Regions from separate parts of the Homo sapiens genome. Here region 2 is linked to region 1. The links come from fine-mapping of genetic effects on plasma protein levels. A gene starts in region 1. The other region holds a variant in brackets. All regions are shown on one strand. Distances are between the middles of the regions.

Evidence for each region. PIP is the chance, under the fine-mapping model, that this variant and not a neighbour inherited with it causes the effect. Protein levels are from antibody-based Olink assays in UK Biobank. Linkage for the fine-mapping came from a reference panel and not from the study's own genotypes, which makes the PIPs less certain.
Region 2: its variant is fine-mapped to the plasma level of the GLT8D2 protein (UK Biobank, PIP above 0.99). The variant lies in the coding sequence of GLT8D2. If it changes the protein, the assay may bind it differently, which can mimic a change of level.

Annotation. Positions count from the first base shown.
Region 1 is chr12:104,048,190-104,053,189 of GRCh38, reverse strand. GLT8D2 (glycosyltransferase 8 domain containing 2) reads left to right here and starts at 3,003. Exons shown (of 11, transcript NM_001384711.1): 1 at 3,003-3,295.
Region 2 is chr12:104,012,799-104,017,798 of GRCh38, reverse strand. GLT8D2 (glycosyltransferase 8 domain containing 2) reads left to right here. Exons shown (of 11, transcript NM_001384711.1): 4 at 2,694-2,786. Among named protein-coding and RNA genes, the nearest start is that of GLT8D2, 35 kb to the left of the region's middle. RefSeq lists a silencer at 3,210-3,432. The variant A/G (reference allele first, on the strand shown) is at 2,745.

The DNA of each region.
Region 1 (5,000 bases):
TGTGAAGGAAATTGCACTGGGCAGGTGTCAGCTCAGGCTGCTGTCCACATGATGCCTGGGACATGTCTGAGGGACTAGCCTGCTGCAAGTTAACAGCACATAATTCTGGAAGGGCGGTGGGAAACCCTGAGCCAGAAGTGGTTCTTATTTTCGCTCATGTGTGTGCAGTGAGTATTTAGAGCATAGGATATTGTGCTGCCCCTGAACCTTATGACTTCCCAGAGGTGACCAACGTTTTAGCTAAAAACATTTAGCTAAATGTTTGAATGGAATTGTGCTTTAAAATAAGGTACAACTTGCTGAGCATGGTGGTGCATGACTACAGTCCCAGCTACTCGGGAGGCTGAGGAGAAAGGCCCAGGAATTCAAGTCCAGCCTGGGCAACATAGCAAGACACGTCTCTACATAATAATAATAATAATTAATACATAAAATAAGGTACAAGATGCTGGGGGTAAAGAGAGAAGAGGAGGGGCATCATGTCAAGCCTCTCCAGGAGAAAGGACACACCTGCTGGATTGTGTGAGGGATTTAGAATAGGGGCATATAAGGGAACACAGGGCAGTCAATAATTCTACACAGGCAGCAAATTTGATGCTGAAGGATGACCAATGTGGATGCCATGCCACTTAACGCTACTGTTGCAGCCGCAGATCCTAGTATTTGAAATATGCCTCAAGAAGGAAACACTTAAGAAGTGCTGAATAAGAATTCCAATCCTGGCTTCATCGCTAACTTGCTTTGGGAACTTGGGCTTTAATTTGCTCAAAGCCTCAGTTTGCTCATCTGTAAATTGGGGCAAATAACATCTGTTCAACTTACCTACCAGAAATGTTGTGTGGCTAAAAAGAAATAGAAGATATGAAAATGCTTTGGCTATATTCAAAGTTCTATATACATGGAAGATATTCAGGATCCTCCCACCTTCAAAGTTCATATCTAAGAAAACCCCTACTAAATCCTTTAGAATGGAACTGCTCAATATAGTAGCCACTAGCCACATTGACTACTGAGTACTTAAATGTGACTAGTGCAACTGAGGAACTGAATTTTTAATTTTATTTAACTGTAACTAATTTTAATTGAAAAACTGATACTCTATTCAATTACTGGAAAACTTTTAAGTACATTTGGACCAACCTGGACTCGTGAATTTACTTTTGTTCCCAGTGTTTTTTTCTATTTTTTTATTGATAACATAATAGATATACATATTTTGAGTGTGTATTCAAACATTTAATATTAATACATTCATATAATTTGTAAAGATCAAATCAGTGTAACTGGGATATCCATTACCTTAAATGAATCTACTTTTTAAATGGTATTTATAAAATCTAAATATATGTGAAGTGTTTCTGCTTAAATTTAGTGTTTGAATTGAGATGTGCTCCAAGTGTACAACACACACCAAATTTCAAAGACTTAGTTAAAAAAAAAACACTGGGAAGGGCAGGAGGAAGGGAGAGATAGGGAGAGATTTGTTAAAGGATATAAAATTATAGCTAGATAGGAGGAATAGGTTCTAGTGTAGTATGGCCATAGTTAACAATAATATATAGCTTCAAAGAGCTAGAAGGAGGATATTGAATGTTTCCAACATAAGCATCAATATTTGAGATTATAGATATGCTAATTACAGTGTTCTGATCACTATACATTGTATATTGAAACATCAATATGTACCCCATGAATATGTACAATTATTACATGAATATGTATCAAAACAAATTAAATTTAAAGACAAAACAAAGAACATAAAACATCTTCTTAATAATGTTTTATATTATGTGTTGAAATGATAACATCTTGTATATATTGGGTAAAGTAAAATATATCATTAAGATAAATTTTACCTCTTTGTACTTTTTTCTTAATGTGGCTACTAGAAAATTTTAAATTATAGCCAGGTGTAGTGATGTGCACCTGTAATCTCAGCTACTCAGGAGGCTGAGACGGGAGGATCGCCTGAACCTTGAAGTTCACGGCTGCAGTGAGCTGTGATCACGCCACTGCACTCCAGCCTGAGTAACAGAGCAAGACCCTGTCTCTTTAAAAAAAAAAAAAAGTAAAATTGGCCGGATGAGGTGGCTCACGCCTGTAATCCCAGCACTTTGGGAGGCTGAGGCGGCGGATCACCTGAGGTCAGGTGTTTGAGACCAGCCTGGCCAACATGGCGAAACCCCATCTCTACTAAAAATACAAAAATTAGCTGGGTGTAGTGGTGGGCGCCTGTAATCCCAGCTACTCGGGAGGCTGAGGCAGGAGAATCATTTGAACCGGGGAGGCGGAGGTTGCAGTGAGCCGAGATCTCATCACTGCACTCTAGCCTGGGAGACAGAGGGAGACTCCGTCTCAAAAAAAAAAAAAAGTAAAATTACAGGGTGGCTTGCATTTTATTTCTGTTGGAGAGCACCACTTTAGAAAGAGACAGTGAGCAGGGAGATCCTTATATCCTTATAGGAAATAGGAAGAGGAGCCATTGCAGAAATAAATTCTGTGATCCCAGACAAAGTGCTGGCACCATCTCCCGGGTTTGAGAACACACCGCAGAGATACAGAACAGCGCAGATTGCTGTTGAGGTCAGCTCCCAGCTCCCTGCCTCATTCCTCTCTGATTCCTCTTTTGTTCAGGCACAAAAACACTCCATCCTGAAACTTTTGTCATTATTGCCTTGGTAGAAGAAGACCACAGTTGTTACCTGGGTTTTGATTTGGGGACAACAGCATTTCAATGACTAGGAGATTTCAGGAGAAGCTAGTGGCCATGAAGATTCTCAAAATCAGCATGAACTTTATTTTTCACTGGTGTTCTTTCAAAGTTTGCCTTCGACTCAACGTGTGGTAGAAATTCACCCTGAAAGCATTTGCTCTTCTCTGGTTTTGTGTCTTTTCCTCCAGAACAGCGTTGTTTTTTGCATGTTTTGCACTTAGCCAGAGGAAGTCTGGCGCATCCGAGCCGGCCAGCCGAGCACATCTGGAAGTGGTTTCTGGGGCCGCCCCTCTCTGCCAGCGCAACTCCTGGGTTCCCAGCGGCTTCGCGCAGAGGTGGAAGAAACCCGAGACGTTCCGAAGTCAACGCAAGCAAAGGGGAGTGCGGGTCGGGGAGGAATATTCTTTTGGAAACGTAATATTGGCCTTGGGGCTCTCCAGCCCTTTGGGACTTCCAATGGGATCTTAGAAGCAGCCGAAGCAGCGTGAGGGCGGCAGCCCAGGGCCAGCCACGATTTGAACGCTCTGCCTTGCAGCTCTTCTGGACCGAGGAGCCCAAAGCCCTACCCTCACCATTCACCAGGTAAATAGAGAAATTTACGAGCAGTGTGCAGTCGTTCCGTTTTATCCTGGCCGGTCTGCAGCAGTTCTTTATTCTGCTACAGACCCAAGAAAGTAAATCAGAGGTGTCAGATTGCCCCACACAAACTTTGCCTTCAGAAACTTCCCAGTCCGAACTGGTAGCATTCCAGCGGAACCCTTTTCGGCCATTTCCAGCAAATCCAGTGTGCAATGTTTTTCACATCCTGGGCTGCTTTTCCAGACCTGGGTTTCTCCTCCTTCTCTCCACAAATATGATAATTTACTATTTGTATCAGATTTTAAACATAAAAATCAGCAGTTAGGATGTGGATGAATGCTATTATTTAATGAAGGTATGTCCTGAGCCACAAATTATTTAACTGAGCATGATTCATGTTTTCAGAATCTGCCTTAGGAAGCTGTTCTGAGGATCTCCATCCCCCCAGAAAGAACTGGCCGTTGTGGAAACCCAAGTGAGGCTTATTGTAAATACAGTAGTCGTGGTGTTTGGGTTGAAAATGCTTTTTAAACATTAAAAAAGATCTTATGTTTACTTTATAAGCAAGTGTCACACATTGGACAAGCCTGGTATATAATTTATGAAATAAGAAGGATAGTTAACATGAGAGTAAAAAAAAAAAAACCTGAGAGAGAGTGAGAGAAAGAAAACATGATGATATCTGAATGTCTGGATGTGCTTTGAAAAAAAAAATCAGTCCTCTCGTTGTTTGGCCCCTGTGCAGCCAAATATCCAAAGTGATATTGGTTGGTTTTTGTCTTTTCCTTTTCCTCCAAATGTTCTGGTGTGGCACTTCTGTGTAATATCCTTTCTATATTACATAATGGAATTCCAGTTCTCCCTTTAATGCACTTGGAAGTAGACTGTGCAATGCAGTGGTAAGAACATAGGCTCTGGGGTCAGGCTTACAGGACTGAATCTACATGCTGCCACTTACACACCTTCTAAGCTCGACTCCGGGTGAATTGTTTAACTGCATGCACCCTAGTTCCTCATCTGTAAAATGGAAATTACATGACCTAATGTCTATAGAGGACATAATACAGGACCTGCAAAGTAGTTAGGCCTCAGGAAAGGTTAGCTTCTCTGATGGTGCTGATGATGGCAGTGGTGACAAAAGTGATCATGCATCCTGTTTTTGGCAACACCTCTGCTTTTGACCATGGTTCCCTCTGACAGTCCAGTGGTCCAAGTGTTCCTCATACCCTAATATGTCATCTCTCCAGCACTTTGCTTTCTTCCTTTCTTCCTTCAGACACCTCTCTTTCTTTTATTTCCCATTCTGTCTTTCATTATTTCTTCTTTGTGCTTCCTCTTTCCTTGCTGAGAAAATGTGAGGTTCATTAAGGCACAGCCCTCATAGTTTTCATTTCTAGTTCCCGAGGAAAATGATTCTAAATCCTTTTTAATTTCAGCATTTTCCAAAGAAAGTTCTGAGAAAACATAGTCCCATGGGAAACTCTGTGAACTATATTACCCTCTTAGAGATCGCAAGGCATAATAGCATTTTAAAGGTCCTGAGAAGTCCTGTAGTAGAGAAATCCTCTTAAGGTTGTTTAACGCAATGATTCCCAAACAGTTGATCGCTGAACCACCTTATCACATAATGTAGGTTAACATTTCTAGGAGCACACTCTGCGGTGTGCTATTCTGGACACACTTGTTTTCATTTTGGTTCCTCTTTTGG
Region 2 (5,000 bases), 35 kb after region 1:
GCTAGGAGGTGGTAGAAAAGAGATTTGAGTCTGACTTCAAATTCACACCCTCTTCCCTTCTACCAACTTTTCCCAAACTTTAGGTAGGTGTGCACTACACATGCCAACATGCCATCTTCTCAATTTTTCATCAGCTGTGTTCCTTCTGTCCTAAACATTTCTTAATATTTTCTTTAGGCCAGGCACAGTGGCTCATGCCTGTAATTCCAGCACTTTGGGAGACCAAGGTGGGAGGATCACTTGTGGTCAGAAGTTCAAGATCAGCCTGGCCAACATGGTGAAACCCTGTCTCTACTAAAAATACAAAAATTAGCCAGGCATGGTGGTGGGGGCCTGTAATCCCAGCTACTCGGGAGGCTGAGGCAGGAGAATCGCTTGAATCCAGGAGGCAGAGGTTGCAGTGAGCCAAGGCTGTGCCATTGCACTCCAGCCTGGACAACAAGAGTGAAACTCCATCTCAAAACCAATTTTGTTTTCTTTGACTAATTTTAAAAATTTATAAGTGTACTTCATAATAGAAAGTTTTTATCCTTACTGCAAATGAAAACAGAATGATTTCCTATCATTAAAAAAAAAAGGTAGCTTTAAACACATATACAATTAGGAGAATGTGATTCAACTCTGGGTAGCTTTTGTTGTGTTCCTGCACATAAAATCAGAAAGATTGACTTTCTCATATGCTGATTAAATATTAATGCTATGAACATGAACTTCCTCAGTCATTTCATGCACAACCAGTGCTATATGTTCCATACTCAAGAAAACACTGTTTTACACCACTCTACTTCTCAACAGATCTCAAGGGCCAACATCACTGGAACAAACAGAGCTGGAGGCTTGGAGGCATTGAGGTCTTCTGTTTACCAGGGCAAGAATTTCTTTCTTTCTTCCTTTCTTTCTTTCTCTCTTTATTTTTCTTTCTTTCTTTCTTTCTTTCTTTCTTTCTTTCTTTCTTTCTTTCTTTCTTTCTTTTCTTTCTCTTTCTTTCTTTCCTTCCTTCCTTCCTTCCTTCCTTCCTTCCTTCTTTCTTTCTTTCTTTCTTTCTTTCTTTCTTTCTTTCTTTCTTTCTTTCTTTCTTTCTTTCTTTCTCTCTCCCTTTCTTTCTTTCTTTCTTTTCTTTCTCTCTCTCTCTCTTTCTTTCTTTCTTTCTCTCCTTCTTTCTTTTTTGACAGAGTCTCCCTTTGTCACCCAGACTGGAGTGCAGTGGCATGATCTCGGCTCACTGCAACCTCTGCCTCCCAGGTTTAAGTGATTCTCTTGCCTCAACCTCCTGAATAGCTGGGACTACAGGCATGCGCAACACCTGGCTAATTTTTGTATTTTTAGTAGAGATGGGGTTTTGCTATGTTGGCCAGGCTGGTCTCAAACTCCTGGCCTCCAGTGATCCACCTGCCTTGGCCTCCCAAAGTGCTGGGATTACAGGTGTGAGCCACCACACCCGGCCTGCACATCATCCTTGACCAAGGGTTGAATTAACTGAAAAGCAGCTGTGTCATAATGGCTAAGAACATGTATTTATAATTACTACTGGCTCATAAGAAGAATCACATAAATTCAACAAAATAAAAGCCACATACGGCAGACCCACAGCTAGTATCATACTAAATGGGGAAAAACTGAAAGCCTTTCCTCTTACATCTGGAACACGACAAGGATGGCTGCGTTTCACCACTGTTATTCAACATAGTAGTGGAAGCCCTAGCTAGAGCAATCAGACAAGCAAAAAAAATAAAGGGCATCCAAATTGGAAAGGAAGAACTCAAATTATCCTGTTTGCAGATGATACGTTTTTGTTTTGTTTTGTTTTGGAAGGAAGGTCTTGCTCTATTGCCCAGTGGTGTGATCTTGGCTCACTGCAACCTCCACCTCCCAGGTTCAAGCAATTCTCATGCCTCAGCCTCCCAAATAGCTGGGATTACAGGCATGCACCATCACGCCCAGCTAATTTTTGTATAATTTAGTAGAGATAGGGTTTCACCATATTGCCCAGGCTGGCCTTGAACTCCTGGCCTCATGTGATCTGCCCACCTCAGCCTCCCAAAGTGCTGGGATTACAGGTGTGAGCCACTACAACTGGCCAATATAATCTTATATTTGGAAAATTCTAAAGACTCCAGCAAAAAACTATTAGAACTGATATACAAATTCAGTAAAGATGCAAGACCCCTGAGCAACAATAGTGTTCCAGGTTAATTCTTTCTGTTTGTTTGTTTTTGTATTTGAGACAGGGTCTGGCTCTGTCACCCAGGCTGGAGTAATTTTGGCTCACTGCAGCCTCCACCTCCCAGGCTCAAGCCATCCTCCTATCTCAGCCTCCTTAGTAGCTGAGACTACAGGTGCATGCCACCACGCCCAGCTAATTTGTGTGTGTGTGTGTGTGTGTGTGTGTGTGTGTGTGTGTGTGTTTGTTGTTGTTGAGACAGGGTCCCACTCTGTTGCCCAGGCTGGTCTCGAAACTCCTGAGCTCAGGTGATCCACCTGCCTTGGCCTCCCAAAGTACTGGGATTACAGGCATGAGCTACCACACCTGGCCAGGTTAATTCTTTATTCTATATGCTGTCTGCTTATAGAAAGGTCTCAGATACCACTCCTCTGTGTCATGGAAGGCACCTACTCGCACTACCATTCTAAACTTTGTCACGTGATTTCAGGTTCATAGGTTCAATGTTAATGTGTTTCCATTTCTATTTCAGTTAATCAGGTGCTGCTGTTCCTTCTGATCGTGACCCTCTGTGTGATTCTGT[A/G]TAAGAAAGTTCATAAGGGGACTGTGCCCAAGAATGACGCAGGTGAGCAGACATGGAATTCATTGAGTTGGGATACCCAGGAATGTGGTTTGAATATGTTCCTCTAGGTCCTTTCAATAGCTGGGTTCAGGGACAAGTGACAGTTTGGTCAACTCCCAAGGACCTGCTAGTAGAATATCCGCCCTAGACCACCTTTTCAGTCGTGCCCTAGGATGGTCGGTGCTATTCAAACTTTAGCATGTGTGAGAGTCACATGGAGAGCTTGTTAAAACACAGCACTGGGCCCACCCGTGAGGTGTAGGATCAGTAGGTATGGTGTGGGGCCTCAAGACTTGCATTTCCGATAAGCTCCTGGTTGAGGCTGATGCTGTAGGTTCTTGGACCACAGGGTGAGTGCACTGCTCCACACTCCATCTCTTTGGAGCTTCTCAATGACTTTGCTTATGGAAACCACCCTCTTTCTCCTCTCCCTGCTGGTTCATTCCCATCAGTGCAAGTCAGCCTCATAACTCTCAACTTGAAAATGGCCCTTCATTGGCCCTGTGGTCTCTCCCAGCTGCACTGAGAACCATGTTTCCCTCCTCGGGGGTGAATTGCCTGAGATGGCACCTTCAAAACTCCAATGCACACACAAAGTCAACCTCCATAAAAATCAGGAAGCACTGTTTATTACATTTTTAATTAATTTACTTTTTTTTTTGAGACAGAATCTCACTCTGTTGCCCCAGCTCAAATACAGTGGCACAATAGCAGCTCCCTGCAGCCTCGACCTCCAGGGCTCAAGCAATCCTCCGGCCTCAGCACCCCAGGAAGTTGGAACTACAGGTGTGTGCCACCACGCCCAGCTAATTTTTTGTAGAAATGGGTTTTGCCATGCTGCTCAGGTTCATCTTGAACTCCTGGGCTCAAGCTGTCCTCCTACCTTGGCCTCCCAAAGTGCTGGGATTACAGGCATGAGCTCCATGCCCAGCTAATTTACTTTTTATATAAATCAAGCAAATACACACTTACGGGCTGGCGATGGTGGCTCATACTTGTAATCCAGCACTTTGGGAGGCTGAGGCGGGAGGATCACTTGAGTCCAGGTGTTTGAGACCAGCCCAGCCTAGGCAACAAAGCAAGACCCCATCTGCATGCACACAAAAAATTACCTGGGCATGGTGGGGCATGCCTATAGTCCCAGCTACTTGGGAGCTGGAATGAGAGGATCACTTGAGCCTAGGAGGTCTAAGCAGCAGTGAGCCCTGATAGTGCCACTGCACTCCAGCTTGGATGACAGAGTGAGACTCTGAATACAGTTATTTGGTGTGTTACATACATTTATTCCACAGTTTTGTTTTTTTTTTCAGTCAGACACTTAGGGACTGGAAACACAACAGTGAACAAAACAATATCCCTATTCCCAGGAAGCTGGCATTTCTTTCTGATTATATTTTGTAATTTAAAAATTCATTTAAAAATAATTAAAAACATGTATAATCTGATCTAAATGAACATGGAATCTGCAAAGAGAATGATTTTCATACAAAGACATATATACAAATGTTCTTAGGGTATAATTCATAGTAGCCCCAAACTGGAAACAATTCACATGTACATCAACTCGTGAGGGATACAAAAAATGTAATTTATCTCACACAATGAAATACTTTTCGACAGTAAAAAGGAACAAATGACTGATACAAGCTGCAATATGGATGAACCTGAAAAAAAACTATGCTAAATAAAAGAAGTCAGACCTGAAAGACCATATATTGTATGATTCCATCTATATGAAATTTCTAGAAAAGGAAAATCTATGGAGACACAGAGCAGATCAGTGGTTGCCTAGAGCTGGGAGTGGGAATGGACTGACTGCAGACCAGGCAGCTCAATGGAACTTTCTAAAATTGGATCTTGGTGATGGTTGTGCAATTCTATAAATTTACTAAACATCATTGTACTGTACGCTTACAATGGGTAAATTTTTAAAAATCTGTATTCGTTTGCTTGGGCTGCCATAACAAAATAGCACAGACTAGGTGGCTAGACCATAGAAATGTATTTTCTCTGGTTCTGGAGGCTGGAAGTCCAGGATCAAGGTGTGAGCAGGTTTTGTTTCTCCTGAGGCCTCTCTCCTTGGCATGCAGATGGCCGCCTTCTTGCTGTGTCCTCACGTGGCCTTTTCTCTGTGCTGCATTCCTGGCTGTGACCCTCTGTGTGATTCTCCTCTTTTCCTCCTTTTATTAGGATACCAGTCTTACTGGGATAAGGCCT